Homo sapiens: one gene and its partners. The protein of the gene in region 4 purifies or fractionates together with the protein of the main gene of each other region. This does not show direct contact. Each region holds a gene or a part of one and is shown on either strand. Other genes may lie near its edges. The genes, in order: NOPCHAP1, LRBA, BLTP3B and CT55.

Evidence for each region.
Region 1: the proteins of CT55 (region 4) and NOPCHAP1 purify together in Homo sapiens (affinity purification with mass spectrometry; 3 studies listed by BioGRID and IntAct, with this or other methods). This does not show direct contact.
Region 2: the proteins of CT55 (region 4) and LRBA purify together in Homo sapiens (affinity purification with mass spectrometry; 3 studies listed by BioGRID and IntAct, with this or other methods). This does not show direct contact.
Region 3: the proteins of CT55 (region 4) and BLTP3B purify together in Homo sapiens (affinity purification with mass spectrometry; 3 studies listed by BioGRID and IntAct, with this or other methods). This does not show direct contact.

What each region holds. Positions count from the first base shown.
Region 1 is NC_000012.12:104,981,294-104,989,315, reverse strand, and holds the start of NOPCHAP1 (NOP protein chaperone 1), read right to left. Parts: upstream 3,001-8,022; 5' UTR 2,964-3,000; coding exon 2,849-2,963; intron 1,150-2,848; coding exon 1,063-1,149; intron 1-1,062. UniProt on the Homo sapiens protein: Client-loading PAQosome/R2TP complex cofactor that selects NOP58 to promote box C/D small nucleolar ribonucleoprotein (snoRNP) assembly. Acts as a bridge between NOP58 and the R2TP complex via RUVBL1:RUVBL2.
Region 2 is NC_000004.12:150,263,465-150,270,597, forward strand, and holds the end of LRBA (lipopolysaccharide-responsive and beige-like anchor protein), read right to left. Parts: intron 2,349-7,133; coding exon 2,258-2,348; 3' UTR 971-2,257; downstream 1-970. UniProt on the Homo sapiens protein: Involved in coupling signal transduction and vesicle trafficking to enable polarized secretion and/or membrane deposition of immune effector molecules. Involved in phagophore growth during mitophagy by regulating ATG9A trafficking to mitochondria.
Region 3 is NC_000012.12:100,139,720-100,147,746, reverse strand, and holds the start of BLTP3B (bridge-like lipid transfer protein family member 3B), read left to right. Parts: upstream 1-4,872; 5' UTR 4,873-5,111; coding exon 5,112-5,155; intron 5,156-5,981; exon of another isoform or gene 5,982-6,076; intron 6,077-8,027. UniProt on the Homo sapiens protein: Tube-forming lipid transport protein which mediates the transfer of lipids between membranes at organelle contact sites. Required for retrograde traffic of vesicle clusters in the early endocytic pathway to the Golgi complex.
Region 4 is NC_000023.11:135,155,514-135,161,655, forward strand, and holds the end of CT55 (cancer/testis antigen 55), read right to left. Parts: intron 5,043-6,142; coding exon 4,898-5,042; intron 2,799-4,897; coding exon 2,686-2,798; intron 1,991-2,685; coding exon 1,803-1,990; coding exon of another isoform or gene 1,799-1,802; exon of another isoform or gene 1,516-1,798; coding exon 1,446-1,515; 3' UTR 1,027-1,445; downstream 1-1,026. UniProt on the Homo sapiens protein: Plays a role in spermatogenesis, possibly acting in the regulation of the autophagy pathway.

The DNA of each region.
Region 1 (8,022 bases), on a different chromosome or scaffold from region 4:
TCCAGCAGAGCTGCACTATCAAGAATGATGTTTACAATAAGAAACCTGATTTTTTAAATGTGTTTAAGATTTGAATAGGCACTTCACCAAAGACATACAAATAGTGACACATGAAAAGATGCTCAACATTATTAGCCATTAGAAACAAATTAAGATCACAACGCGATACCACTATATCCACACTAGAACAGCTAAAATTAAAAAGGCCATACCACATTTTGGTTAGGATGTGCAGCAACTAAACTCTCATACCTTGCTGGTGGAAATGCAAAATAGCAATTTCTTCTTCGTAAAAAAAAAAAAAAAATTACACCTTCTATATACCCGCAATTCCACTCCTAGGTATGTAATCCCTCAAAACAAAAACCTATATCCACAAAAACTGGTTTTTGGATGGGCAGCCACCATATGGTCATTTCAGCTATTGTAGATTTAGTGCTACAGTAATGATGCTACAGTTAAATTCTCCTTTCAGAGTACTCATGATTTCTTAGTTTATTGATGTGATACCTTCATTACCTTCATGCTTATTTACATTGTTTTTATTGAATTTTTGCCTTTTTTTAATATTAAGAGTGAATTACATAGAGGGCATTCGTGTAATAAAGTCTGAGTGTGGGACATACTTATGAATGTGCAGTACAGCAATACTACAGAATAATAAAGAGAACTGGCCATTATGCTGTATTCTAAGTAATATTTATCATTTAAATAATTGTGTCCAATTCAATGGGATGTGGTTGTGGTTTTCCATCCATATATATTAAGTTTGAGGCTCAGTAACCTCTAAATAAATTTGCCATGGAGATTAACAATTGTTTTTGACTTCCCAAAATTCAACCCACAAGCAATTTTTCACGAAAAAGTTACCCTCTTAAAGTAGAGAAATAATGTAAGAAGTTCCATTCTGTGTACTGACTTTATCATGTAAATCCCAAGTAGGACTTGTTCCACTGGACTATCTGTGGTTTGATACCTGACAATGAAGGCAGAGACCGTCCCACAGCTTAATCAGACAAAACTCAGCATTAGAGAGGGTGAGAGAGGGGAAGAGGTACTTACAGGGACTCCTCTCTATCCGAACTGTTTGAAGAGTGGAGGTCTTTCTGGACTTAGGTTGGGAGTTGATGAGCAACCTGTCCCATATACCTGAAAATACAGACACACAAACACCCTTAATTTACTACAGCATAAAAAAACAAAGGCCCATCAGTAAGCCTCTCACATGACCAGTCTTAAGACTTGACTGTCCACACTCCCCCAAAATTTTTTTTTTAAAGGAGAACTCCAAGCTCCATTACAACATTTTAATTCTTTATGTACAGCCAGCCACCTCTCCTTTCTTACATCTGTCTCATTCACCTCTATCACCAATGGCAGGTAATAAATGCACACCAATCTGCACTTTTCTGGATCAGAAATTCATTAGCAGACAAACGTGGGTCTGCAATGACAGAACGGAGGAAACAGTACAGAGCATAACAATGGTTAAGTGAAGCCAGAAATGGTTACTAGTTGTGTAACACTGGGCAACTTACCTGATCTTCAAGCATTTGTTTCTTCATTAGTAAAACATGCTTGCCTGGTATTTCCCCTTCCCTGAAGACGTTCAACCCAAGGAAAGCAGCCTTTTGGGGATTTTGTCACCCACTCTACCTTTCCAGCCTCATTTCTCACTACTCAAATCATCCCAACTCTCTATCCCATCAGAGTTCCAAGAGGGGAACGTACAAAACTCAAGGCTTTGCACACCCTATTTCTAATACCCGGAAAATCCCTTAACTCTCTGGTTAAAAAACAAATCCTGTTCACCTGCAAAGCAGAGCCGCAACAAACATCCATTGAATGCCTACTACTTAAGGCCTACTGGATTCGTGATCAGAGCACAGAGTCTGGAGCCAGACTACTTGAATTCAAGTCCCAGTTTTGCTACTTTCTAGCCACATGATCTCCAGAAGGTAAATTACCTGTATGATAAATCATGTCTCAGGTTCCTCAACTATAAAACAGAGATAACAGATTTTCTGCAAAGGGTTGTTGTGAGGATTAGATGAGTTAGTTTCTGGGGCATACATAGTAAGGACTACATAAGCTTTGGTTATCATTATTATACTTCCTTCGGAATCTCTGGGTTCTCACAAAACCTTTTCTTCAAGCTAGTATTTACTGACAACATGCCCAAGCCTTTTTAGGCATTCTCCTCCTCACAAAAATTCTACAGGCATTACTACTATCACCATTTTCCAAATGCAAAAACTGAGGCTTAGGGAATGAAAATAACTCTAAGTCCCACCAGTTAATTACTAGTGGAGCTGGGATTCGAACTCGTGCTTTTAAATTCTACCTATAGTGTCTGAAATGCTGTGTGGATTTCCTGGATGCATGTCTCCCTCTACAAGACAGCAGCACTAAGGGGTGGTCTGTGTGGGTGTGAAAGAGGTAGGGACTGTTAGCATAATATTACTCCGCTTCCCCCTATCAGCCAACTGCTCCGACCCAGGCAGCCAAACCAAAAGCCCTCCCTTCCCCAAAAGAACTCGAGAGCTTCCCAGCTTCCAGGGCAGGGCAGATGCCTGGCAGCGGCGCCTGGCAGGGTGGGCGCTCACTACCTTGCAGAATATAAGAACCACTAGCTGGGGAAACCATTCCGGGCCCGCAGCCGGGTGCCCGCCCCAAAGCCCCCACCCCTGCCGCGGGCAGGGCACGCCGGAGCCCCGCAGCAGTCCCCGGGGCTCCCCTCGAGGGTACGGAGCCCGGGCAGGGAGCCACCGGCCGGCTCCCAAACTGCACCGGCCGCGCCTCCTCTGCCGCACGTGTGCGGCCCATGCCGCCGTCACCCGTCCGTCACCTCCGCGGCCGTCGCTTCCCGCCGTCAGCAGCTCCTTGGACACTGGGACTCCTGAGGAATCCCGGGTGGGCGACGAACAACTCGGGCTAGCCTTGGGCTTGCCATGGACCTCCATGCTTCCCTCAAGCCTGCACTCTCAGGCCCGGATGCAGGAAAAAGGCTCGGGTAAGGGGGCGGGGAGAGGGCCGCGATTGGAGGAAACTGCGGTGGGCGGAGTAAGGAGCGGAGAGAGAGGCGGGGCGAGCGTGGTGCAGCCTGGAGGCTGCGCGGGAGCAGGGGCCATTCCTACTCCTGGGAAAAAGAAAGGTTCAGACACTGTCATAGGAAAAAACAGCGGGCAAGGCTCGATTTCGCCAAATTCGGGCATAAAGAGCATAACATTAGGCTTCCCTCCTCTTTATCCTTTTTTATTAAATTTTTTTTTAATTGGTGAAAAAACACGTAACAAAATCTACCATCTTAACCATTTTTAGTTGTACAATTCAGTGGTGGCAGACCTCTAGATCATTTTCATCTTGCAAAACTGAAACCTTATACCCATTTACCCCTACTCCAGTCCCTTGGTAACCACCATTCTACTTTCTTCTTTGTTTCTTTCTTTTTGAAACAGCCTTGCTCTGTCGCCCAGGCTGGTGCCTCAGCCTCCCAAGTAGCTAAGATTACAGGTGCACACTACCACGCCCGGCTAATTTTTGTATTTTTGTATAGAGACGGGTTTTCACCATGTTGGCCGGGCTGATCTTGATTTCCTGACCTCGGGAGATCCACCCACCTTGGCCTCCCAAAGTGCTGGGATTACAGGCGTGAGCCATCATGCCCAGCTACCATCGTTCTACTTTCTGTTACTATGAGCTTGACTACTTCAGATACATTATGTAGGTGGAATCATACAGTACTTGCCTTTTTGTTACTAATTTCACTTAAAATAATACCCTCAAGGTTTAGACATGTTGTAGCACATAACAGGATTCTCTTCTTTTTTAAGCCTGAATAATATGCCATTGTATGTATATACCACATTTTCTTACCATTGATCTCTCAACAGGCGTGCTGGTTGCTTCCACCTCGTGGTCATTGTGAACGCTGCTGCAATGAACATGGTGGTACAAATATCTCTTAGAGACCCTGCTTTTCAATGCTTTGGGATACATACCCAGACATGGGATTACTGGATAATAGGGTAATTCTACTTTTTAGGTTTTTGTGAAGCCTCCGTATAGTTTTTCATAGTGGCTGCACCATTTTACATTCCCACAGTGCACAAGAGTTCCAATTTCTCCACATCCTTGTCAATATTTCCTTTTTCTGTTTGGTTGCTTCTTTCTTTTTGACAGTGAGCATCCCAGTGAGTGTGAAGTGATATCTTGAAGTTTTGGTTTGCATTTCTCTAATGATTTAGTGATGCTGAACACCTTTTCATGGGCTTGTTGGCCATTTATATATCTTCTTTGGAGAAATGACTATTCAACTCCTTTACCCATTTTTTAATCTGGTTATTTGTGTTTTTGTTGTTGAGTTGTAGGAGTTATTTATATATTCTGGATATTAACCCTTTATCGGATATATGATTTACAAATATTTTCTCCCATTCTGTAGGTTGCCTTTTCACTCTATTGCTTCCTTTCCTGTTTGTTCTTTTAACAGTCTTTATTGACCACCTGCAGTATGCCCAGACCCCTCTTATATAGGATTCAAAGCAGAAGCAGCAGAAACCTTGGACCAATCTTTTCTGCTTATTTCTGACAGTGCAGAGGCTCCAGAATCAGCCTGGAGTGGATTAAATCCAGTGTCATATTATTCATTTAGTAGCTGTGACTTTGGGCAGATCACTCCCTGAGCGTCTGTCCTTCTCTGCAGAATCAGGATAATAATACTTCATGGGGATGTTATAAGGAATAAAAGAGGAAAAGGAGTAAAATGTATGTAATGGCACTGGTGATACAGAATTATTGGGCTCCCAGCTAAACCCCACTCTAAAGCATGGAACTGTGGCCCTAAGTGACAATAGCTGACCCCATTTTTCGCCCAAATGTTGCCTTTTTAGCCTGCCATTCCCATATCCTGCGCCCATAAAAGGACCAGCTGACAGAGCAATATGAATGGCTAAGTGTTGGGGATACAAGAAGAGACTACAGATAGCTGCGGCCAACTTCAGATGGTGCGACTTCAGGGAAAGATCACCTTCTTCCCCCACCATCCCCTTTCCTATTCCCCATTCCACTGAGAGCCACATCCATTGCCCAATAAAATCCTCCACATATACTACCCTTCAGTCCGTTCATGTGACCTGATTCTTTCTGGACAGCAGACAAGAACCCATGAGGGCAGGGGCTGGGACATTGCTCCAGAGCCCACACACAGCCTGCTCTCACCAGAGAGGAGTGACCGGTGAGTTCCAGCATTCGTATTTTCGCTCTGGGTCCTGCACTCACTTGCACGCTCCCTCTTGTGAGGAGTGACAAGCAGCAGGCTAAGTGAAATGAGCCATTCCAGTTCCTGCCCATGAAGGGGGTCAAGGTCGAGGTATAATACCATCTCACTGGTAGCAGCATTATTATGTTCATCATAATAAATTAACACTATATTATACGAAGTTACAAAAGCTAGGCCACAAAGAATTATGACAGAAATAACAGTAGGCACTGAGGAAGAAAACACTGATTAATGGGCCTGGTGCGGTGGCTCATTCCTGGAATCCCAGCACTTTGGGAGGCTGAGGCGGGCGGATCACGAGGTCAGGAGATCAAGACCATACTGGCTAACAGGGTGAAACCCCGTCTCTACTAAAAATACAAAAAATTAGCCGGGCGCGGTGGTGGGCGTCTGTAGTCCCAGCTACTCGGGAGGCTGAGGTAGGAGAATGGCATGAACCCAGGAGGTGGAGCTTGCAGTGAGCCGAGATCACGCCACTGCAGTCCAGCCTGGGCAACAGAGCGAGACTCCATCTCAGAAAAAAAAAAAAAAAAAAAAAAACTGATTAATGCATTTTAAAAGTTATTTCACTATCTTCCTACTTCCAGTTAAAACCTATTAAATCTAGAGATCCTTTGCATTCCCAGCACTGAGCTTGTAATAGGTACACAGTTAATGATTAATCTGTGTTTGATGAATGAAAGAACAAAAAGAAGATGAACAAATGTATAATTGTTAATTAACTGTTTGATTGATTGACCACCTCAACAAACCTGGATTCTAGACACTGGAAATTTCCTCAAATCACTTTTGTGAATGGTTGGTTGAGATCTGAAGTACCCCACAGGTGCAGCGCCATACAAAATGAGTGGGGCATTTGTATTAGCCTGTTCTTGCATTGCTATAAGGAAATAGCCAAGACTGGGAAATGTATAAATAAAAGTGGTTTAATTGGCTCACCATTCTGCAGATTGTACAGGAAACATGATGCTAGCATCTGCTAAGCTTCTTGGTGGGGGCTTCAGGAAACCAACAGTCATGGTAGAAGGCAAAGGGGGAGCAGGCACATCACATGGCCAGAGCAGGAGCAAGGAAGACTGAGCAAGGTGGCCAGGCGTGGTGGCTCACACCTGTAATCCCAGCACTTTGGGAGGCCAAGGTGGGTGGATCACCTGAGTTCAGGAGTTCGAGACCAGCCTGGCCAACATGGTGAAACCCCGTCTCTATGAAAAACACAAAAATTAGCCAGGCATGGTGGCAGGTGCCTGTAATCCCAGCTACTTGGGAGGCTGAAGCAGGAGGATCACTTGAGTCAGGGATGAAGAGGTTGCAGTGAGCCGAGATCATGCCACTGCACTCCAGGCTGGGCAACACAGTGAGACTTCATCTTAAAAAAAAAAAAAAAAAAGAGAGAGAGAGAGTGAGCAAGTTGCCACACTCAGTATCGTGAGGACGGTACGAAACCATTCATGAGAAATCCACCCCCATAACCCAATCACCTCTTACCAGGCCCCACCTCTAATACTGGGGATTACATTTCAACATAAGATTTGGGCAGGGACACACATCCAAACTATGTCAACACTGCTAGTTTGTAAGAATAGCTTAGAAATGAAGACATTCAGATCTTTCCAAGATAGTGTAGAAAATGCACTGGCAGAATTTAGTCTCCCTTCCAGAAAATTATGTTGTTAACCAAAAGAGCAGTTTTGTAAAATATGAAGGTAAATATAAAACATAGTTTCTCTACTTCTAATCTCTTTAAAAGATAATTGAGTGTTTAAAGCAAAAAAATATGTATCGTGGGGTTTATAACAAATATAGAAGCAAAAAGTATGGCAAGAATAGCACAGAAAATGGAGGTGGTAAATGGAAATAAATGTTGTAAGGATCTTATATTTTATGTGAAGTGTTTTTAGTAGGGTTTGAAAATAGATGGTGATAAGTTAAAATTTTATATTGTAAATACTAGAGCAACTACAAAAAAAATTAAAAAGACCGATATCTAATCAGCCAATAGTGAAGATAAAATGGAGCCATAGGCCGGGCGCAGTGGCTCACGCCTGTATACTAGCACTTTGGGAGGCCGAGGTGGGCGGATTATCTGAGCTCAGGAATTCGAGACCAGCCTGGGCAACATGGTGAAACCCTGTTTCTACTAAAAACATAAAAAATTAGCTGGGCCTGGTGGCATGCACCTGTAGTCCCAGCTACTTGGGAGGCTGAGGCAGGAGAATTGCTTGAACCTGGGAGGTGGAGGTTGCAGTGAGCCGAGATCATGCCACTGTACTCCAGCCTGGGCAGCAGAGTGAGACTCCGTTTCCAAAAAAAAAATGGTGCCATAAAATACATTCAATTAATCCAAAAGAAAGCAACATAAAAAATAAAGAGGAACAAAGAACATTTGGGACAAATAGAAAACAATGTCATAGTACAGGTAAGCGATACTCATTTCAGTAATGACATTAGATGTAAATTGGTGTCTTCCTCCATTTGGGCTGCTATAACAAAATGCCATAAACTGGGTAGCTTATAAATAAAAGAAATGTATTTCTCACAGTTCTAGAGGCTGGAAAGTGCAAGACCAAAGTACTAGGAGATTTGGTTTCTGGTGAGGGCTCACACTCTGATTCATAGAGGGCCCCTTCTTGCTGCATTCTCACATGGTAGAAGGGACAAGGCAGCTTTATAAGGGCATCATCTCATTCATAAGGGTTCTACCTTCATGACCTAATCACCTCCTAAAGGTCCCACCTCTTACA
Region 2 (7,133 bases), on a different chromosome or scaffold from region 4:
TTGAATAAACTGTAAATGTTATTACTGAACAGATTCTGTCATTAAGAAGCCCATGTGTTGATGCCAGCCTTATTTGTTTCATGAAGTATTGTTTCTTTTAATATTTATTTTTTAAATTTTAATTATTATTATTATTATTTTTTGAGATGCAGTCTCACTCTGTCGCCTAGGCTGGAGTGCAGTGGCACAATCTGAGTTCACTGCAACCTCCGCCTCCCAGGCTCAAGCAATTCTCCTGCCTCTGCCTCCTGAGTAGCTGGGATTAACAGGCGCCTACCACCAAGCCTGGCTACTTTTTGTATTTTTAGTAGGGACAGGGTTTCCCCATGTTAGCCAGGCTTGTCTCGAACTCCTGACCTCAAGTGATCCGCCTGCCTCGGCCTCCTAAAGTGCTGGGATTACAGGCGTGAGCCAATGCACCCGGCCAACTTATGTTTCAATTAATTTTCGTTAGTCGTAAGTTTTTAAAACAATAAAGGTAGTGGAGATACTGATTTTTTTTTCCTTTTAGGTTTCAAGAGGAGCTTTGCTTTAGGCTTGTTAAGCATAGGGTGGTTGAAGTATCATTTGTGTGGCACGACTTAGGTATTGGTATTTTCTTTTACCATTGTTCACTTAAGAAGTTTTCAAAGAGTAATATTCACAAGTTAATGAGGACATTAACAAACAAACAGTGAAGATGTTCATCAGTTAATTAATTTATCAGCAACTTGGGTATTTCTTTGATTCTAAAATGTACTTTCCCTCCCCCACATTTCACCGTCGTCTATTTATTTTCTTAATGATGGATCTCAGATGAAGTGGTACATAAAGTTCCTTGCTAGGCATTTGTAAGATTCAGGTCTAGGTCATTTGTGTGAGTCTCAGTAAGAAAGAGGAGAGATCTGGCCAAAGAAAGCTCATTTTCCTGTTTTCAGTCAGGAGGATCTCTCACATTGGTTATTGATCAAAAACTAGGACTGAATCAGAGTTTGACATTTTCTTTCTTTGTGAATCATTATTTTATTAATGATGTTTAAAATTTAGGAGCAAAAAAGGCATTTCCAACAATTCAATTACAGATGCCATTTTATTCAGCTTTTTCTGTCAAACTGAATTGTTCATTCCAAATCCTTGCTTTTAGAGAAGAGCTGAGTGTGTAGGAAAAAAAGAGGGACCACTTGAAGTCTGTTGCAAGAGAAATAGAGATCAAAGTTCACAACATACAAAGAATTTATTTATGCAATACAGGCCTTTTCTCAAATATTTTTCACAGAATTCCACACAGTAATCTACTAGAAAAGTAGAATTATACACCACCAAATAACATTGTTTCGTTTCTTAGTACAAATTGCTAATCAAAAGGAAGGTGGAGATGATAGTTTAATAACAAATAGTAAAACAGGTGTTGCTGAATACAGCACCCGGTAGCCTCTATTTGCAAACCCGGGGAGGGAAGGGGGTGCCCCAACAAAACAACAGTGGCTCCGCCTCATTGTCCAGGCACAGGCAAACCGCAGTAGTGAGCTTTGGTACTTGCATTTACTTTAAAAGAAAAACAAATGTTGTGAGCTCAAGAGCATTTCCATCATTTCGTTTTGTTGTGCTATGAAGATGACAGATCAGGAAAAAATGGTAACTATTTCACACTTGCTATAAATTAGATTCCTTGTGCTAACCACACAATAAAATAGCCTCCCCCAAACCATACTTTTCTAGGTCTAAAACATGCTTGAAGAACAATATTGATAGACAGACTTAATTGAGATGTTTTAAATTACATTTACCATAATTTAAACATTACTATTTAAATCCCAGAAATATTAGTGCTGAAGAAGCACAGTTGTTTGGAAAAATACAGGACCCAAATTACAGCATCAAATTTTCCTATTCCAATATTGTAACCCACTTCCCCACTGTGAAAATCCTATTTCTCAAGCTTGTAGATGCATGGGAAATGTTCTTCATAATATTATAGCTGGAATAAGTGGTTTACTTGCTCCACTGTATGTTTCCATAATTGGTGAAAATAGACTTCTCATTATGACTAAAAATATAGATTTTTTAAAACTACAGAACCCAGCAGCCAGTTTTCTGCTTTGCTAATCCCCCCCAAAAAAGTCAAGCAAAGACTACAAAAATAGCAATTATTAATAACTTTAAAAAATATTTTGCTTCTTTGAGCAAATTTAAGTTACATTCAGATGTGGTAGAAGAGAATGATGCTCCAGGTACTTCTGCTCATCCTAGGGGCAGAGTTGATGTACAGCTGTCACCATCAGTAGCGGGTTTGGTATTCATGATGCCACCGGTTAAAGTCGTTGTAAAATAGCACAATGCTTCCTGAAGCCATGCCAGAAATGATGCACCTAGGAGAAGCACAGAGAGAAGGACTTTTACAAACCTGTGTGTCCTAGAGATGTTACTAAAAACTGCTCTCCCCAAATCCACAAGGTAAATATAGAAGCTGGCAGTGAAGGCTCCAATTTGTGGGAACTAAGGTATGTATTTCATGACTAAAATGTATCCCTGAGTAAGCTCAGAGTACTGCCTCTGACACTCCACAAGGATCCAAGCCACAGCTTGCTTTTTCATTGAAAGGGTACGGACAGCTGGTATGTGCAGGATGAGTAACTAAAATCTGAACAGATTTGTAACTAAAATCTGAACAGATTTGGTAATTTCTAAAGGGGGACTGGGCTGGCAAGACCCATCCATTATATAAGCAACAGACTCAAAAGAAGGAACCACAATCTCAAAGTAACTGCTGGTGGAAAGAAGCAGCACACACTCAAGTGACAAGAGACACCACCTCTGACAGGTACAGAATCAATGAAGAGTGAAAAAGAAGAGTGTTGTTGACCATAATTTAAGCTGGTCTCCCCTCTGTGGAGAAGTAGTCTATGTCCATCATGCTCTGGGTGAGGACCTAGTCCTCGTAACACAGTAACTCACCGAAATCACTGAAGATAAGAACTTCTGCAAGCTTCTTGGTCTCCTGTCCCCAAAGAGGTGGTGCAGGGAAAGAGATGGAGAACATAGGTGAACCTAAACTGAGCATAGCCAGATTTTTCTCTGTGTAGTTTGGTTAGGACCAGCCCTTAGAAGCCATATTCAGTATCCTTCCTAGTACCTCGTATCAAAATTAATTAGGAACTAAAATGTGTCACTACAAAAAAAATCAACTAAAAACAAAGGAAGACAGTAAGGAGGAAATGAGAGACAAAACTCTAAGGCAGAGAGAAAATTAAATAGAAAAGTGGCAAAAGTCAGTCTTTCCTTATCAGTCATTAAAGAGATTAAATTCTCCAGCCAAAAGGAAGAGATTGGCAGAATGGATAAAAAACATGATCCAACTATATGCTGTCTACAGGAGACCCACTTGAGATCTAAAGACAAACATCTTGAAAGTGAAAGGATGGAAAAGATATTCCGTGTAAGTACTAGCAAAGAGAGCTGAGGTGGCTTACACTAATATCAGACAAAATAGTCTTTCAGTCAAAAACTGTTACAAGAGACAAAGGACACTACACTGAGAAAAGGGTAAATTCACAGAAATATAACAATTATATATGCATTTATCATCAGACCCCCAAGATACAAAGAGCAAATATTAACAGAATTGAAGGGAGAAATGGTTCTACAGTAATAGTTTTAGACGTCAATACCCCACTTTCAATAATGGGTGGAACAACCAGGTGGAAGATAAGGAAACAGGACACTTGAACAATACGATAAGCCAACTGGACCTGACACACGTATATAGAACACCTTCCCAACAACAATAGAATATACATTTTTTTGCAGTGCGCATGGAATAGTCTCCAAGATAAACCATATGTTAGGCCACAAGTGTTAATGACTTAGTAAAGATTAAAATCACAAAGTAGCTTTTCTGATCATAATAGAATGAAACTAGGTACCAATAACTGAAGGTAAACTAGAAAATTCACAAATATGTGGAAAGTAAATAAATGATGAGTCAAAAAAAACAAACAACAACATAAGAGACATCAGAAAATACTGAGACAAATGAAAAGGAAATACAACAAGCCAAAACTTATGAAATGCAGCAAAAGCAATGCTAAAATGGAAATTTTTAGCTGTAAACACATAGATTTAAAAATATCTCAAATCAATAACCTAACTTTACCTCTTAAGGAACTAGAAAACAGACAAAACCCCAGGCTAGGCAGAAGGAAGAAAATAATAAAGAACAGAGTAGAGAGAAATAAAGCAGAAAATAGTAAAATGATTGATAGGAAAAAACCCAAAAATTGGTTCTTTGAAAAAATAACAAAATTGACAAACCTCTAGCTAGACTAAGATGACTTGGCTGGGCATGGTGGATCATGCCTGTAATCCCAGCACTTTGGGAGGCCAAGGTGGGTGGATCACCTGGGGTCAGGAGTTCGAGACCAGCCTGGCCAACCCGGGGAAACCTCGTCTCTACTAAAAATACAAAAATTAACTGGGCGTGGTAGTGGGCACCTGTAATCCCAGCTACTTGGAAGGCTGAGGCAGGAGAATCACTTGAACCTGGGAAGCAGAGGTTGCAGTGAGCTGAGATTGCACCATTGCACTCCAGCCTGGGTGATAGAGTGAGACTCCATCTCAAAAAAAAAAAAAAAATGACTCAAATTACTAAAATCAGAAATAAAAGTTGGGACATTACTGATTTGGCAGAAACTGAGTTCAGAGAGACTATTAGAAACAACTGTATACCAACAAATAGGGCAACCTAGATGAAATAGACAAATTCCTGAAAACAGTATACCAAAACTGAATGAAGAAATAGAAATGATTAGACTTATGACAAGTGAAGAGATTGAATCAGTAATCAAAAACCTCCCAATAAGAAAAGTCCTAGACAAGATGGCTTCACTGATGAATTCTACCAAACATTTAAAGAAGTATTAACACCAATCCTTCTCAATTTCTTCTTCCAAAAAATTAAAGAATCCAGAACACTTCCTAAGTGATTCAATAAGGCCAGTATTACCATGACACCAAAGCCAGTTGAAGACATTACAACAAAAGAACACACAGACCAGGATACAAAATACTAGCAAACTGAATTCACTAGCATGGTAGTGGGAATGTACACCATGACCCAGTGGGATTCATTCTGGGAATGCAAGGATGACTCACCATGCAAAAGTCAACCAACATATAACATACTACATTAACAGAACAAACAACAAAACAAGCCCACATGATCATCTCAACTGATGCTGGAAAATTTGACATGTGACAAAATTCATCATCCTTTTATTATGAAAACAATAGGAGTAGAAGGAAACTACCTCAAATGATAAACAGCATGTATGAATAACTCACAGCTAACACCACACTCGATGAAAAAAAGTTTTTCCCCTATGATTGGGAACAAGGCAAGGATGCCCACTTTAATCACTCTTATCCAACAGTACTGAAAGTCCTAGACAGAGCAATTACACAAGAAAAAAGTATCCAAATTGGAAAGGAGGAGTGAAACTGTCTCTGTTTACAGATGACATGATCTTGTATGTAGGAAATCCTAAAAATTCCACACCAAAACAAAACAAAAGAGCTAATAAATGAATTCAGCAAATTTGCAGGATATACAACACGAAAATCAGTTGCATTTTTATACACTAACAAACAATGAGCAGTCCAAAAGGAAAATTAAGAATTGCAGTGAGCCGAGATCATGCCATTGCACTCCAGCCTGGGTGACAGAGCGAAACAGAAACCCCTAACAGCCAAAACAATCTTGAAAAAGAAGAAATATGTTAGCAGTTGCACATTTTCTGATTTGAAAACTTACTTACTGTTGTTACAATGCGACAGTAATCAAAACATTGTCACACTGATATAGGCAGACCAACAGAAGAGAAAGTTGAGAAATAATCCCTCACATATGTGCTCAAATAGGGTGCCAAGACCTTTCAACGGAGAAAGCACCTTCTTTTCAACAAATTATGCTGGGAAAATAGGATGTCCACATGCAAAACAATGAAGGTGGACTCTTACCTACCATTATATTAAAAAACTAAAAACAGATCAAAAACCTAAATACAAATTAAAACTATAAAACTTTTAGATGAAAACATATGGGAAAACCTTCATGACCTTGGATTTTGCAGTGGCTTCTTGGATATGATATCAAAACAAAAGAGACAAGATAACAAAACAAACTCATAACAAAAAATAGGACTTCATAAAATGTAAAATCAGGGCTAGGTATAGTGGCTTATGGCTATAATCCCATCCCTTTGGGTGGCTGAGTCAGCAGGATTGTTTGTTTGAGCCCAGGAGTTTAAGACCAGCCTGGGCAACATAGTGAGACCCTGTCTCTACAGAAAATAAAAAAGCTGGGCATGGTGGCACATGCCTGGAGTACCAGCTACCATGTAGCTGAGGCGGGAGAATCATTTGAGCCCAGGAGGTTGAGGCTTCAGTGAGCTGTGATTGTGCCACTGCACTCCAGTCTGGGCAAAAGAGTGAGACCCTGTCTCAAAAAACAAACAAAAAGTAAAATCTTTTGAGCATCTAAGGATATTAGGAAGAGAGTGAAAAGACAACATCACTGATCATTAGGGAAATCAAAACCACAATGAGAGACCACGCCTGTTAGGACAACTGTTAAAAAATAGAGCAAGGTGTTGATAAGGATGTGGAGAAATTGGAACCCATGTAAAATGGTACAGCCACTGTGGAAAACACTTTAGGGTTTCCTCAAAAAGTCAAACGGAATTGCCATATAACCCAGCAATTCCACTCCTGGGCATACACCCAAAAGGACTGTAAAAAGGGACTTGAATAGATATTTGTATGATAATGTTCATAGCAGCATTACTCACCATAGCCAAAAGGTAGAAACAACCCAAGTGTCCATCATCAACAGGTGAACGATAAACAGAACACAGAATATTCATATAATATTCTGATACGTGCTACGACATGCAAGAACCTTGAAAGTGTTATGCCAAGTGAAATAAGCCAGGCACAACACAACAAATATTGTATGATTCCACTTAACAGAAGGTGCTTAGAAGAGGCAAATTCATAGAGACAGAAAGTAGCATGCACATGAGCTGGTGGGAGAGAGAGTCATTAACATGCAGAGCTTCTGTTTATGATGAAAAGGGTCTGGAAATGGATGATGGTGA
Region 3 (8,027 bases), on a different chromosome or scaffold from region 4:
ACTCGGGAGGCTGAGGCAGAAGAATTGCTTGAACCCAGAGGCAGAGGTTGCAGTGAGCTAAGATCGCACTACTGTGCTCCAGCCTGGGCAATAGAGTGAGACTCCATCTCAAAAATATATATATATATTGGTTTGGCCAGGCGCGGTGGCTCACGCCTGTAATCCCAGCACTTTGGGAGGCCGAGGCAGGTAGATCACAAGGTCAGGAGATTGAGACCATCCTAGCCAACATGGTGAAACCCTGTCTCTACTAAAAATACAAAAATTAGCTGGGTGTAGTGGTATGCGCCTGTAGTCCCAGCTACCTAGGAGGCTGAGGCAGAAGAATCGCTTGAACCCAGGAGGCAGAGGTTGCAGTAAGCTGAGATTGCGCCACTGCACTCCAGCCTGGCGACAGAGCAAGACTCCATCTCGAAAAAATGAAATACATTGGTTTGGTCCAGAAGGGCAAGACAAGTCAAAGGAGGGGAGCTTCCAGGCTATAGGTAAATTTAAACATTTTCTGGTTGACAATTGGTTGACTTTGTCTAAAGACCTGGATGATCTGGTTAAGATAAAAGATCGTGGAGACCAAAGTTCTTTTGAAGTCTTAATGTGGCTGCCCTTAGAGACAATAGATGACAAATGTTTCGTATTCAGACCTTTAAAAGGTGATAGACTCTTAGTTAATCTCTTCAGGATTGAGAGGGCCTGTAAGAAAAAAACCTAACTATGTTAATAGAGATTCTTTATAGATGCAAATTTTCCCCCACAAAGAATGGCTTTGCAGGACCATTTCAAAATATGGCAAAGAAACATGTTTTGGGGTAAAATATTTTGACTTTCTCCTTTGTCACTGATAAAACAGGATGAGGTAAAGAAGCTGGCCAAAACCCATCAAAACCAAGATGGTCATGAAAGCAACCTCTGGTCATCCTCACTGCTCATTAAACACTAATTATAATATATTTGCATACTAAAGGAAACTCCCATCAGGGCCATGACAGTTTACAAATGCCATGGTAACATGGAGAAATTACCCTATATGATCTGAAAGGGGGAGGAACTCTCAGTTCCAGGAACTCCCTGCACCCTTACTAGAAAACTCATGAATATGTACCCTTTGTTTAGCATATAATCAAGAAATAACCATAAGTATAGTTGGGCAGCCCATGCTGCTACTCTGCTTATGGCGTAGCTATCCTTTTATTTCTTTACTTTCTTAACAAACTTGGTTTCACTTTACTCTTGTCAGCTTGGTCTTGAATTCTTTCCTGCAGAAGGCAGGAACCCAAGTAGCCTCCCAGCCTGAACCCCAATTTGGGGGTCACCCTACCACAACCAGCATAGCTAAATATCTGCAGAGTTCAGTTTTGATATGGACAGGAGACAGGGAAATACTGGGTAGAACAGAGTGGTTCCCTGGCAAATGCCCTACTCTCAAGCCTGGAAACCCACCGTCCTAAATGGGAACAGGCATTTCTGTTTTTGTGCTCAAAAGTTGCCTTTTGGCCTGCCACAGCACCCTATCTTGTATCCATAGAAAGCCCAAACCCCAGGCTCCACAAGCAGATGAGCAGACAAGGAGATGAACAGATGAGCAGAAGAATGGCAGACCAGTGCAGCAGAGACAAGAGAAGTAGTGACTGAACGCTGAGAAGAGTTTGGCCACTGGATGGCCAAATTCCAGGGGAAGATCATCTTCCCACTCCATCCCCTTTCCAGCTTCCCATCCATCCTGTTGAGAGCCACCTCTACCACTCAATAAAACCCCACATTCACCGTCCTTCAAGTCCCTGTGTGACCTCTTTCTGGATGCCTGACAATGACCTGGATACTAAGAGGGCACTGAGCTAGTTAACACTTAAGCTATCTGTGGACAACAAAGCTAAAAGAGTGCAGTGTAACGCATGCCCACTTGGGCTTCAGGAGTTGCAGTTACCCACCCCTAGACGCTACCATGGGGCCAGAGTTCAAAAGTCCTTGCTCCGGCTTCTGCACTTGCCCATCTGTGTGCTCCCTGTCCTATTAGGGGTTTGCATGTGCTCGGTAGCCAAGCAGATGAGCCACCCCCCTGTGTACTTCGTGCATTAGTGTTAGTCCTGCGAGTGAAGTCAGGGAACCCTCCTGCTTCAGTTTTAAATCCAAGTCTTTGATTTCAGGGTCCATTTTTTTAAAAAAATTAAATGGATTTATTCATATCTTTGAAATAATACCTCTACTATAAGTCTGTCCCCAAATGAATTACTCCTTCCTCTGTGTTCTTATAGCACTTTGCTTGTTTTTGGTAAAGTAATTAATAATACCTAGCCTTTATTGAGTTTGCTATAAGGCAGGTTAACAGTAGCTACTAATAATAATATCTCTTAACACATGAGATCACTGAAGCTGAGAAAGATTAATTTGCTGAAGTTTACACAGTTATAAAGTGGCCAGCATTTGAACCAGAGTCTACTAACAGAGCTGAAGGTGTAAGTAACATGAGTCTGCCTTCCAAGCCAGGCCGTTAACTCTGATGGCAGGAACAGAGATTTTTGTTTTCATTTAGGCAACCCCAGGATACTTGAATAGTGCCTGGTTTATAATCTATGATAAATGTTGAGTGTAGTCAGCTGGGTGTGGTGGCTGATGCCTGTAATCCCAACACTTTGGAAGGCTGAGGCGGGCGGATCACGTGAGGTCAGGAGTTCGAGACCAGCCTGGCCAACATGGTGAAACTCCGTCTCTACTAAAAATACAAAAATTAGCCTGGTAATCCCAGCTACTTGGGAGGCTGAGGCAGGAGAACTGATTGAACCTGGGAGGCGGAGGTCGCAGCGAGCCAAGATCGTGCTGCTGCATTCCAGCCTGAGCGATGGAGTAAGACTGTCTCAAAAATAAAATAAAAATAAAATGAAATGTTGAGTGTAGTCAACTTACACGTCTATCCTTTCCATTCTTCAAAAAGGGCCAGCTTATTGGACTATGTGTAAACTACTTCCCACCCAACTCCCAAGATGTACAACCACACATCTTGCTAATACATCCCTCAGGGGTGGTACAATTTCTTTTCCTGTTTTAGATATCACTAGTGTTAAAAGAAAAACTTCAGCCAAATTAAATTTAAAGGAGTTTAACAATGAACGATTCCTGAGTCTGGCAGCCCCCATAATCACAGCAGATTCAGAGAGACTCCAGCACAGCCACATGCTGGGAGCAGATTTCTGGCCAGCAAAAGGAAAGTGAGGTCTAGAAAATGGAAGTGAGGTACAGAAACAACTGGATTGCTTACAGCTCAGTGTTTGCCTTATTTGAACACAGTCTGAACAGTTGGCTACATCTGGCCAAAACTCAGTGATTGGCACAGGTGTGGGCTATGGTCGGTTTATACCTCTGCTTATTTTCATAAGTTCATGATGTACAGAAAAACCTTTAGGCTGAACTCAATTACGTAAGGAGGCAGTGTTAGGCTAAACTTGACTTAACACTGAGTAATTTTTTTTTTTTTTGAGACAGTCTTGCTCTGTCGCCCAGGCTGGAGTGCAGTGGCTTGATCTCAGCTCACTGCAACATTTGCCTCCCGGGTTCAAGCAATTCTCCTGCCTCAGCCTCCTGAGTAGCTGGGATTACAGGCGCCCGCCACTATGCCCAGCTAATTTTTGTATTTTTTTTTTGTAGACACAGAGTTTCACCATGTTGGTCAGGCTGGTCTTGAACTCCTGACCTCAAGTGATCTGCCTGCCTCGGCCTCCCAAAGTGCTGGGATGACAGAAGTCGTCATTTTAATCTCTGAAAATGTTAGCTCTGTTTGGGATTGGGTGGGGTGGAGGTGTAGAATTGTAACAGTTTTCCCTAGTTCAACAATTTCCTTCCTTCCTTACAGAACTTTTCATATGATATTTACACCTTTAGGTTCAACCTAGTGAAGTGGGTAAGGCTGATGATTAATCTATTTCACAGATGATTAAAATGAAACTAATAGTAAAGAAATTATTTTCCCCAGGATAACACAGCTAGAAAATACCAGAGCCAGGACTTGAATTATACACCTTCTAATTCCTAGGTCCTAGACTACTAGGAACCATTGTCAACCTTTACTTCCCTTAGAATAGCAATAACCAAAGGAAACATTAAATTGCCACATTTAGGTAAGGGAAAGGCAGGACACCTTAACAAAAGAAAAAAAAAAAACACCAAAAACAAAAACCTAAGGAAGAATATGAAGAAAGGTGAGTAGGTCAAGAGAGCAAAGCAAGCACAGGAGTTAATGGCCGATTCTTAAAACATTCTAAGGAGGCCGGGTGCAGTGGCTCACGCCTGTAATGTCAGCACTTTGGGAGGCTAGGAGGGTGGATCACGAGGTGAGAAGTTCGAGACCTACTGGCCAATATGGTGAAACCTCGTCTCTAATAATACAAAAATTAGCCGGCCGTGGTGGTGCGCACCTGTAATCCCAGCTACTCAGGAGGCTGAAGCAGGAGAATCGCTTGAACCCTGGAGGTGGAGGTTGCAATGAGCCGAGATCGTACCACTGGACTCCAGCCTGTGTGACAGAGCAAGACTTGTCTCAAAAAAAAAAACAAACAAGCAAAAAAATAAAAAACATTCTGAGGAAATGAATAAGGGAAGTAGGACGTGGAAGTAAAAATCAGCGACGGGTCAGCGATGGAGGCGGGAACACCAGCAGAGGGAAGGAGGGAGGATTAAGGCCAAGAAGGATGGTGTATTGAGAGTCAAGGGCCCTGTGTCGCGAGGGCTAAGAACCCTGGCGCCAATGCCACAAACCTCCCGCCCCCGCCCAGAGCCCAGCCAGAGCCCAGCCAGAGCCCGCCCAGAGCCCGCCCAGAGCCGGCGTTGGCCCCGCCCCGCCTCGTGCCGGCCCCGCCTGGAGCCGCCCCGCCCCCGCCCTCCACCGAGTCTCTTAGGTGATGCTGCAGCCAAGATGGCGCCCGCGGCGGCCGTGGCGGCCTGAGCGTGATGCTCCGGGTTCTCGGCGGCGGCTGTGGCCTTGGCCGGGGCCTTGGGTCTCTCCCGGTCGTGAGCGATCAGCGCCTCTCCGCCGGCCGGGCTAGCCGGGACAGAGAGGAGACGGCCACGAAGAGAGGAGGCAGTGAGCAACAGGACGAGACCGCGGCGTCTCCAGCCTCGGTACCATGGCCGGGATCATCAAGAAACAAATCTTGAAGCACCTCTCCAGGTCAGTGAGCGCCTCGGTGTCGGCGCCAGTCGGCCTCCACCCCAGCCCGCACTGGAGTCAGCCTGCGGCTTCGGGGGCGGCGGCGCCTGGCGGCTGTGCGGGAGGCGACCTTCGGACTTCCCCGCTCTGGCCGGGGCAGAGGTCGCGGCCCCGGATCTCTTGTCGCCGGCGGCGCCGGGGGCTGGCCTCACGAATCGGCCCCTGACGCGTCTTCTCCCAGGGTGGGCGCGCGGAGGAGCCCGGAGTGCGGAGCGCGGCGGGCTGGGATCGCTCCCGGCGCGGCGTCTGGGGGCGTCCCGGCTCGGCTCTGTGCGGTACTGAGCGGAGGCTGGAGGTGGCCTGGCGTCACCCAAGTGCCTGGTTAATGTGCTGGGCTCTAACTCGAGTTCGGTGCTCCTTCCCCTTGGAGCAGAGCGGTTCCGTTAACCGAGGGCTTCTGGCGCAGTGTGGACGCTCAGTGGAGGCTGTGTTCTCAGTGGAACGTTAACCTTGTGATTGTTCTGAATTCCTCCCACCTTGGCGTTCCCGCTCTGTGGCATCAGAGGGTGTGCCTGTTTGCACAGTTAGGATTTGTTTTAGGTAAATAAGCAGAGTTCGCAGCTTTGGCAGGTTCTTTCTGGAGTCCTATGAGACCCACATCATTATTACTGAACATTTTTTTTTTTTGGTTTTTGCTCTTTTTCCTCTGCAACTCTAAAATTCAGGGAGTTAACATCTGTGGTGATTAAACCCAAGACATGTCATTCTCTCCATTTCATAACGCGGTTTTAGTCAGAAACATGACTCAGTAAGGCTGGCAGTTTGTTACTGCTCTTGGCTTCTCCGTGTTTGTCTCAAGACACAGGCTAAATGTAGGCTCTTGTTCCAAGTTGTTACCAGCGAACTCAAAGCCCTTGGTTAGGATCCCTTTCTGTTCGATTTGTAAGTTAATTTTAACTAATTTTGGGAAGACACGGGTATGATTATAGACTTGTATAGTAAACATAATTCTTGATTCCCCAGATTGTCTTATACCACAGGTTATATATTGGGAACAGAATTCTACTTCTGTGATTCAGCAAATATTTTCCTCACTTATAATACTGAATAAGATATAGCACTTTTCTTAAAAGTAGCAAAGTATAGCAGCGTGTGTGTGTGTGTGTACATATATATACATATGTACATATATACATATACATATATACACATATATACACATACATATATATGTGTACTACATATATATGTGTATACACTACACATATATATGTGTATATATGTAGTATTTTTTTAGTAGAGACTGGGTTTCACCAGGCCAGGCTGGTCTTGAACTCCCAACCTCAGGTGATCCGCGGTCCTCGGCCTCCCAGAGTGCTGGGATTACAGGTGTGAGCCCCCACGCCCTGCATGAATATGTATTTCTTAATGTTATCACTCATTGAAAAGTTTCTTTTAAAATTATATATATGGCCCAATCTTGAACTATCTTATTTTGGAAGGTTTTATCTATTTTTAATTTATGTCCTCCCGCCTTTCTCATACCCAGCTCCACAAGAAAATACAGATCTGCAGAAAATGATTTGAATGCCTACTTTCTCACTCGTCCAAGGATGATGCTGCATAGCTAGTACCACTCTAGATGCTTGGAAGAAAAGTTAATTCAATCAACAGATAGTGCATTAGAGTTTAATTCTTTTATAGAACTCCATTTGAGAGGGGCTCTTAAAAATTAAGAGCATGCATACCAAAGTATAATAAAAAAAATTAAGAACAAAGATGTAATGGCTTACTGCATGAGATAGAAAACACCCATATATTGAAAATTGAGTCTTTAGGGCTAGTTTTTATTTTATTTTATATATATATATATATATATATATTTTTTTTTTTTTTTTTTTTTTTTTTGAGACAGAGTCTCACTCTGTTTCCCAGACTGGAGTGCAATGGCATGATCTCGGCTCACGGCAGCCTCTGCCTCCTGGCTTCAATCAGTTCTCCTGCCTCAGCCTCCCGAGTAGCTGGGATTACAGGCATGCGCCACCACGCCTGGCTAATTTTGTATTTTTAGTAGAGACAGGGTTTTTCCATGGTGGTTAGGCTGGTCTCAAACTCCCAACCTCAGGTGATCCGCCTGCCTTGGCCTCCCAAAGTGCTGGGATTACAGGTGTGAGCCACCGTGCCTGGCCCTTAGGGTTAGTTTCTAAATCTGTATGATTTGTAATAGCTGTGTGATAAATAGTGTGATGAGGATTTTTTTTTTTTTCAGAGATGAGTTTTTGGGACACTTGAGTTTTCAGTTATTTCATATTTCAAAACATCCTTAACTCAGGTGACTAAAGAGTATCAAATTTTTATTTTTGGTTAATAAGTTAATCTTACTGCTAATTGCTGTCATCTCCTAAGAAAAATAGTTATTCAGAAATCTAAAGGCAGCTCGTAATTGACAAAAGAAGGCAGGTGTTGTGATAAATTATAGTTACTCAGGAAGGAATGAACTTTTGAAATTACCTGGTTCAAGTTTAATTTTATAGAATATCCAGTAATGAAGATGTCACTACATTGACCTAGTGGTCTGGGATACAGTAGAATATAGTTTACCAGGAAATAGTTGAACATACTAGTTTCTAATACTAGACATCATGTGAGGCCTGTGTATGCAACCCATTGCACCTTCTCAAAGGTGACCTTTCCTGACCACAGAGTTTAAAATTGTGAGCCCCCATATTGCCAGTCCTCTTGCTTGCATTATTTTTCTCCATAGCACTCATGCTTGTCTGTCGTACATATTTATTTCTTTATGTATTTTTGTCTTTCTCCACTTAAATGTAGACTCTATGAGAGCAGGGATTTTTGTCTTGAGGCTGGCATAAAGTAGGTACTCAACAACTAT
Region 4 (6,142 bases):
TGCTATTTGAAAGAAGATAGAGGAAATGTATCCAATCCCTGCCCCACTGCCCAGCTGAACTGCTGCCTCCCAGGTGATCTTCAGTCCTGTGAGGAAGTTTGTGAAACAGTGGCTGTGACTGAATCATCAGCTGATTGGGCTTATCATAATACATTGTAACTCCCAAAGAACATTCTTCCACATCAAACAAACTGCAGAATTAAATGGGGAGGTAGTGAAAGTCATGACCCTTGCATCTCTCAAGTCCAACGTGGACTGCTCTGTAATTCCACAGGGTGTGGGGTTGCTTTTGAATGACGACATTCACAGGGACCTGGTGTTGCCACAGCTCCCACTTACCCCTTTCAATCATAGGAGCTACTGCTGCATGGGTCAGGAAGCCGAGGACGGTGGGGGTGCCGGGGGGGTGGGGTTGGGGCATTGAAAGAACACAATTCCATTAGGGCCTGGAATTTTGTCCTTTTGGTTAAGGATATAACTCTAGAGCCTCAACAGTGCCTGGCACATCAAAGAGAATCAGTAGGATTTTGTGGAGTGAACCAGTGAGTGAAAATGGGAACTTTACAAGACCTTCACTGTTTCTATCAAGCGGGAAACAAATCCCTGGATAACTGAGAGGTCTCACTGGATCTGTAGTGGAAAGTCAAAACACAACTCTGTTTATTCAAGGACCGGTGGTAATGGTGGAATTATGAATCACAGGACTCAGGGTAAGTTTACAACGACACTCAAGCTATGCCCAAAGGTCTGAATATATCCCTTCCCCTAGGTCACAGCTACCTGGTTAAATATTCTATTAGAAGAAAGCATGAAGTTTCCTGGAGTTTACTTGTGGGATTTTAGTATAACCTTTCCCAGTGGGTAAGCAGCTTGTCCTTCCCTCAAGGGGCTCTGTGTTTGTACGTTTCTTCGTGACTTCACATGAGCTGCACCCCTGCAACAAAGTGGCTCACAGAGGCTCATGTACAGCAGAGTCGACTTTCTATGGTTGTTGGTGTTGTTTAAAAATCAACAGAGAGGTCTTAGTGCATTGCTCAACAATTTTATTCCTAAGGAACCAGTGATGAATGAACCACAGGTAAGTATCATTGCTGGCCCAGTCATTCAGTCATTGAACTTAATAACATTTTATCTGCTCATTGAGTCTGCCAGGCACTCTTCTAAGTGCTTGGTGATGCTTTAATGACAACAGAAAAAAAAAAAGAAAGAAAAAAGAAAAAAAAAAACCAGATTAAAAGACATCCTGCCATTGTGGAGTTTACATTCTAGCATGGGGAAGAAGGAACAAGTAAAACAACAAACACCGCAAGTTATGTGGGTGACAGAAGATGAAAGAGGCTATGGAACAATACAGGTTGTACAGGCAGCATAACGGGGCTCAAAACTGAAGTCAAATTGTAACTTTAAATCATGCCTTTAACATGCTGTCCCTGATGCCTTTTCAGTTAAATGCTTTGGCTCCGACGTTCCCTTTTGGGCCGTCCCAGGCCTCCGTCATCCTGGAATCCGCTGCTGCTAATGGGAAATATGGAATTCAAATTTAATGGCCGTGTTCATTTTAATTAAGAACTCCTTTCCTCCAGTGACTAGCAAGCTAATTTAGCATGCTTTTTAATTAATAAGTTATTTCCCTAAGCTGGGTTCCTGGTCCAGTTGGACTGGCCAGTGTCTCAATTAGATTTGCCAGAAAAGTCATATATAAAATACTATTTAGGCTTACTAAGCTAACCTTTTAAGTTAAACCAGCCCCTTTACTGCTCATAAAAGGAAAGATAAACAGAATAAAAATGCTTTGTCATTACGATTTATGCACTGGGGTGATAGAAATCGCTCTCCAAATAAAGCAGAACTGAATGCTCTCCACCATGACCACATTGACGATATCATCTACTTGAGGTACGTATCCATCAGGAAGTTTCACAGAATCCAAGGTGAAAAAAATAGTATAATCTATCACCCCATTTCTTCCATGTACGCTAGTAATGCAGACCTGTGAGTATAAATAATGGAAATGATTATGGAAAAGCCCAATAAGCACTGTAACCAGCTTTGCACCTCCTCACCCTGGGTCCTGCATGAGTGCAGGTCACTTCGATGCAAATCATTGATTTCCAACCTGGTTGGCCCATTGCTAACACCAGGGGTGCTTTGTAAGGATACCCATGTCCACGCTCCACCTCAGACCAATTAAATCAGACTCTCTGGGAATGAGGCCTGGGTCTCTGATGAGAAATCCTGCTCTAAATATTACCAAAATATGTCCATTACCCTCTGTTGCCTTGAATTGCCTGTGCATATTCAGGCTTTAATAACCAAATCATTCTTAGCATCTACTGGTCAGCTCAAGTCCCACAACACACTCCGTTCATTCTTTCCCTATAGTTTTCTGGCACAAAGATTGTTTTTCTTCCTCCTGTCCTTGGAAGATTCTAATAACATTTGGGTATCGAGTAAAATGCACAATTTAGAACTTAATCATGTGCTTGTTCTATATAATTTTCTAATTATTTCCTTTGGAAAATTCTGCCTTTTCAATAAGAAAAGTGGCTCCTTTGTTGGCAAAGAATGTATTTCTTCATATTTTCTGGAATTCCCATTATACCCAACAGAATCCTGGTCACGTAAATTATCACCAAAGGAAGAGTTAGCAGAAACTGCTGACGGGAGCAACAGGAAAGAAATTACCTCTTCCGTATGAATACAACGGATGGGCTTCACAGAAGTTGCCTTGATGTTTGAGATGCCTGGCTCAGTGGAATATTCAACTTCTAACAAGTCACCCTTATAAGGCACAAAATCTAAAACAGCCATGGAGAAATGTGAGTGTCATGATCTCTTAACTAGGTCACTTTTAATTTCACATGTTATTTGATAGTGTACTACTTTAAAGTCAGTTCTGCTAAATCTAAAGTCCATTTTGTGCATATTTAAACAGACACTACAAATCTCTAAGTCCAAAAAGAAGTTTATAATCCTTAGGCATTGATTCTCCTCTACTGATTTAACAAATTTAAATGGAGGAAAGTGTGAAGCATGCATCACAGCCAATATGAGGGAGCAGCACAGGATTTACTAAACAACTGTTAGTGTTCACAATTGCTTAGTGAGAGGCAGTCAAACATATAGGTAAGAGCACAAGTTTGAACCTGGCTATGTGGCTTCGAATCTTGACACTGCCACTCACTCAGTTGGCAACCTTAGCCAAGGTGGTTAATCTGTCTGTGCCTCGATTTCTTCATCTATAAAATGAGAAGCACAGTAAGTAGCCTTCATGGTACACAGCTGCCTTGAGAATTAGTTGATATGTGTGATACGCACAGAATCATCGCTGGCGCATAGCAACCACCAAATAACTGTTGATTGGTAGTAGTGGTAGCAGTACCGCTAGGAAATGTTGTTACTTTCAGAATGAATCAATTTCCCCTGGTGTTGTGTTCAACTAATGAACTCTTAAGTATGTGCCTTACAGGTTACAGTTAAGACCATCAAGTTTCAAACAGAAGTTTGCAATAAGTTAAAAGTGAGTCACAGGATAACAAAGTTACGTGAAAGAATCTGGAGCAAGTGGAAATCCCAACTGCAACTGAGACAGTAAATTGCCACAATGAAAACTAGTGATATCAACAAAGTTAAACATTTCTTCACCTTAGGACCCAACACTGTAGAATGACATAAGACACTGTGTTAGACCTGTTCTCTCTCTCTCTCTCTCTCTCTCTCTCTCTCTCTGATAATTTACATACATTTCTTTTGTGTGGATTTGACATATATCTATATGCTTATAACTCCAAAATGTATATGCCTCCAGTTCTAACCAACCTCAGGGTCAATTATCCATATGCTTACACCAATCTAACGTGTGTAAAGCTGAGTTGTTGGTATTCTCCATATTCACCAACTTTTGTTTGCCTCAGTCGTCTACATCACAAACTGGCAACTCCACTCTCACAACTGCTCAAATCAAAAACTTTGGAGGTACCTTAGACTCATTTTCCCTCCACAACAAAGATCTAATCCATTACCTCCTGGGTTCTTCTCTCACTTCAAAATATATCCAGAGTCAACTCAATCCTCAGGTTTTCCACTTCTCCATTTTCATTCACATCTCCATCATCTCTCACCAGGAATATTACAACGTTTTCCTGACTGATTTCCTGACTCCACCCTTCCCCTCATAGTCTCTTCTCAACAAAGCAGACAGAGTCAGCATCGTCAAACAAAATGCAGGTCAGAATCCTGCTTTTGCACCCAAGAAAACAAACTAGCAAGCTGCCTGGGGAAGCGGAGCTAATCTCTCCATTTATACCCAAGCTATACGACAGCTGCAGTAGACAAAACAGACAAAAAAATATCGTTGGGTAGAAGCTAAATATTAGAATATATCTGCCGATTACAAAGAGAATTCAACAACAACACACACACACACACACACACACACAAACAGACAACCACAAGGCGCTATCTCCAATCCTAAGTTTGAAGCATTTGAAGTGTATTCTTTTAAAATTTGGTAGTCTACCTTGTCACAGAAACTTCTCTAGTAACCAACTACAGAAATGATGCCTGCAAGTATAGTCTTTGAAGGGTATTAAAAATAGTGTCTCTATGCACTTGTAGGATTGTTTTCTTGATTAGAAATTAAATTCTCATATGAATGAATAGTATATCCAGGCATTACTGAGGGCATTGAACAAATGAACACACAATAACCAACAGCACACAATTTATAATACTGTCTATTTGCCCCTATACTGTACTTAATTTCGATTGGAACAGTCTACCTCTAACACTGAAGAGCCATTGACTGAAGCCAAGTACACTGTAAAAGTTGTTCCAGGACTAAAATCCTCTCAAAAAATTAAGAATTACATCATATATTTCAAAATATAAATCATACCTTCAGAAACAATGGCTATGGAAAAATAAATGCTGTTACTAATATAAATATTATCTTCATTTATAGAAGTAACACATCCAATTAAAACTCTGGTTCCTGAGTCTGAGGGTCCAGCACCATAAAGATGGCGAGGCACAACATCCACCTGTAAGATTTAGGAAAGAGTTTACTTCAAAAACAATACAAATTTAAACATGGAACTTACATGATTAAAAGACTTGTATTCAAAAATATTTTCAACAGCCATCCTAAACACTGGAGAATATAGTTCACTTGGTAAGTGGACCATTGACTTGAGATGACAGTAAAAGTCATGTGCGTGCTTCAAGAATTGTGAAATGTATCCCAAAACATTAATTGCATACCCAAGTTTAATGTCCTTGTACCATTAGATTCCAAGATTAAAATAATACCGTCCTTCGCCTGCAGAAATTCACAGTGAAATGACGGTAAAGTGGAAAGGTATATAGTCATAAGCAGGTTGCGATGAAGGATATAAAACTAGTTCAAAGATGGTTTCTGTGAATTATCTAGAGGGAGAACATTTCAGACAGGGAGAAAATAGAAGCATTGTTTAGGGGAAGTCAGATTTGTGCTGGGTTGGGAAAGAAGACGGGGTAAAGGAGCAGGGAGGCAGAGAGAAAAAACAACAGAAGTTAGGAGCCTAGGGAGCAAAACCCTAACATCCGAGATCCAGGCCTAGGAGACAGAAGCATGAGATAAAGTTGGAGCAATAACCTCAACTGGGGGAGGTTCGAAAAACCAAGTCAAATTAGGGCTTTACTTTATCTACAATAGAGAGGCATACAAACCTTTTCCCTTGTTGGAAGTGTAATAGTCCTTATTTTATAATCCTTAAAACTTACAAAAATAGTGTAAGCTTGTTATACTAAAAGTAGGAAAGAAAACAGATAAGCAGACAGCAAAAAGCAGTTACCCCACAATCCATAATTCATTACCAAGAGATCACCAGGGACTACATTTTTGGCAGTAACACTCATCCTGATGTTTTTGTCTGTGCACAAATATATATACATGTGTAAATGCCTGTTTTAAAAGCAAATTAGCATGGTATTCAGTGTTAAAGTATCACATTAAATGAACACAAAAGTTTTTAAATAACAAGAGAGGACGGAAAGAGTCATAGGGAATCCCAATTAATGGATGTGCCGTAATTTACTAACCCAATTTCACATAATTAGACATTTCACTTGTGTCATAGCATTTGGACTACTTGCCTGACTT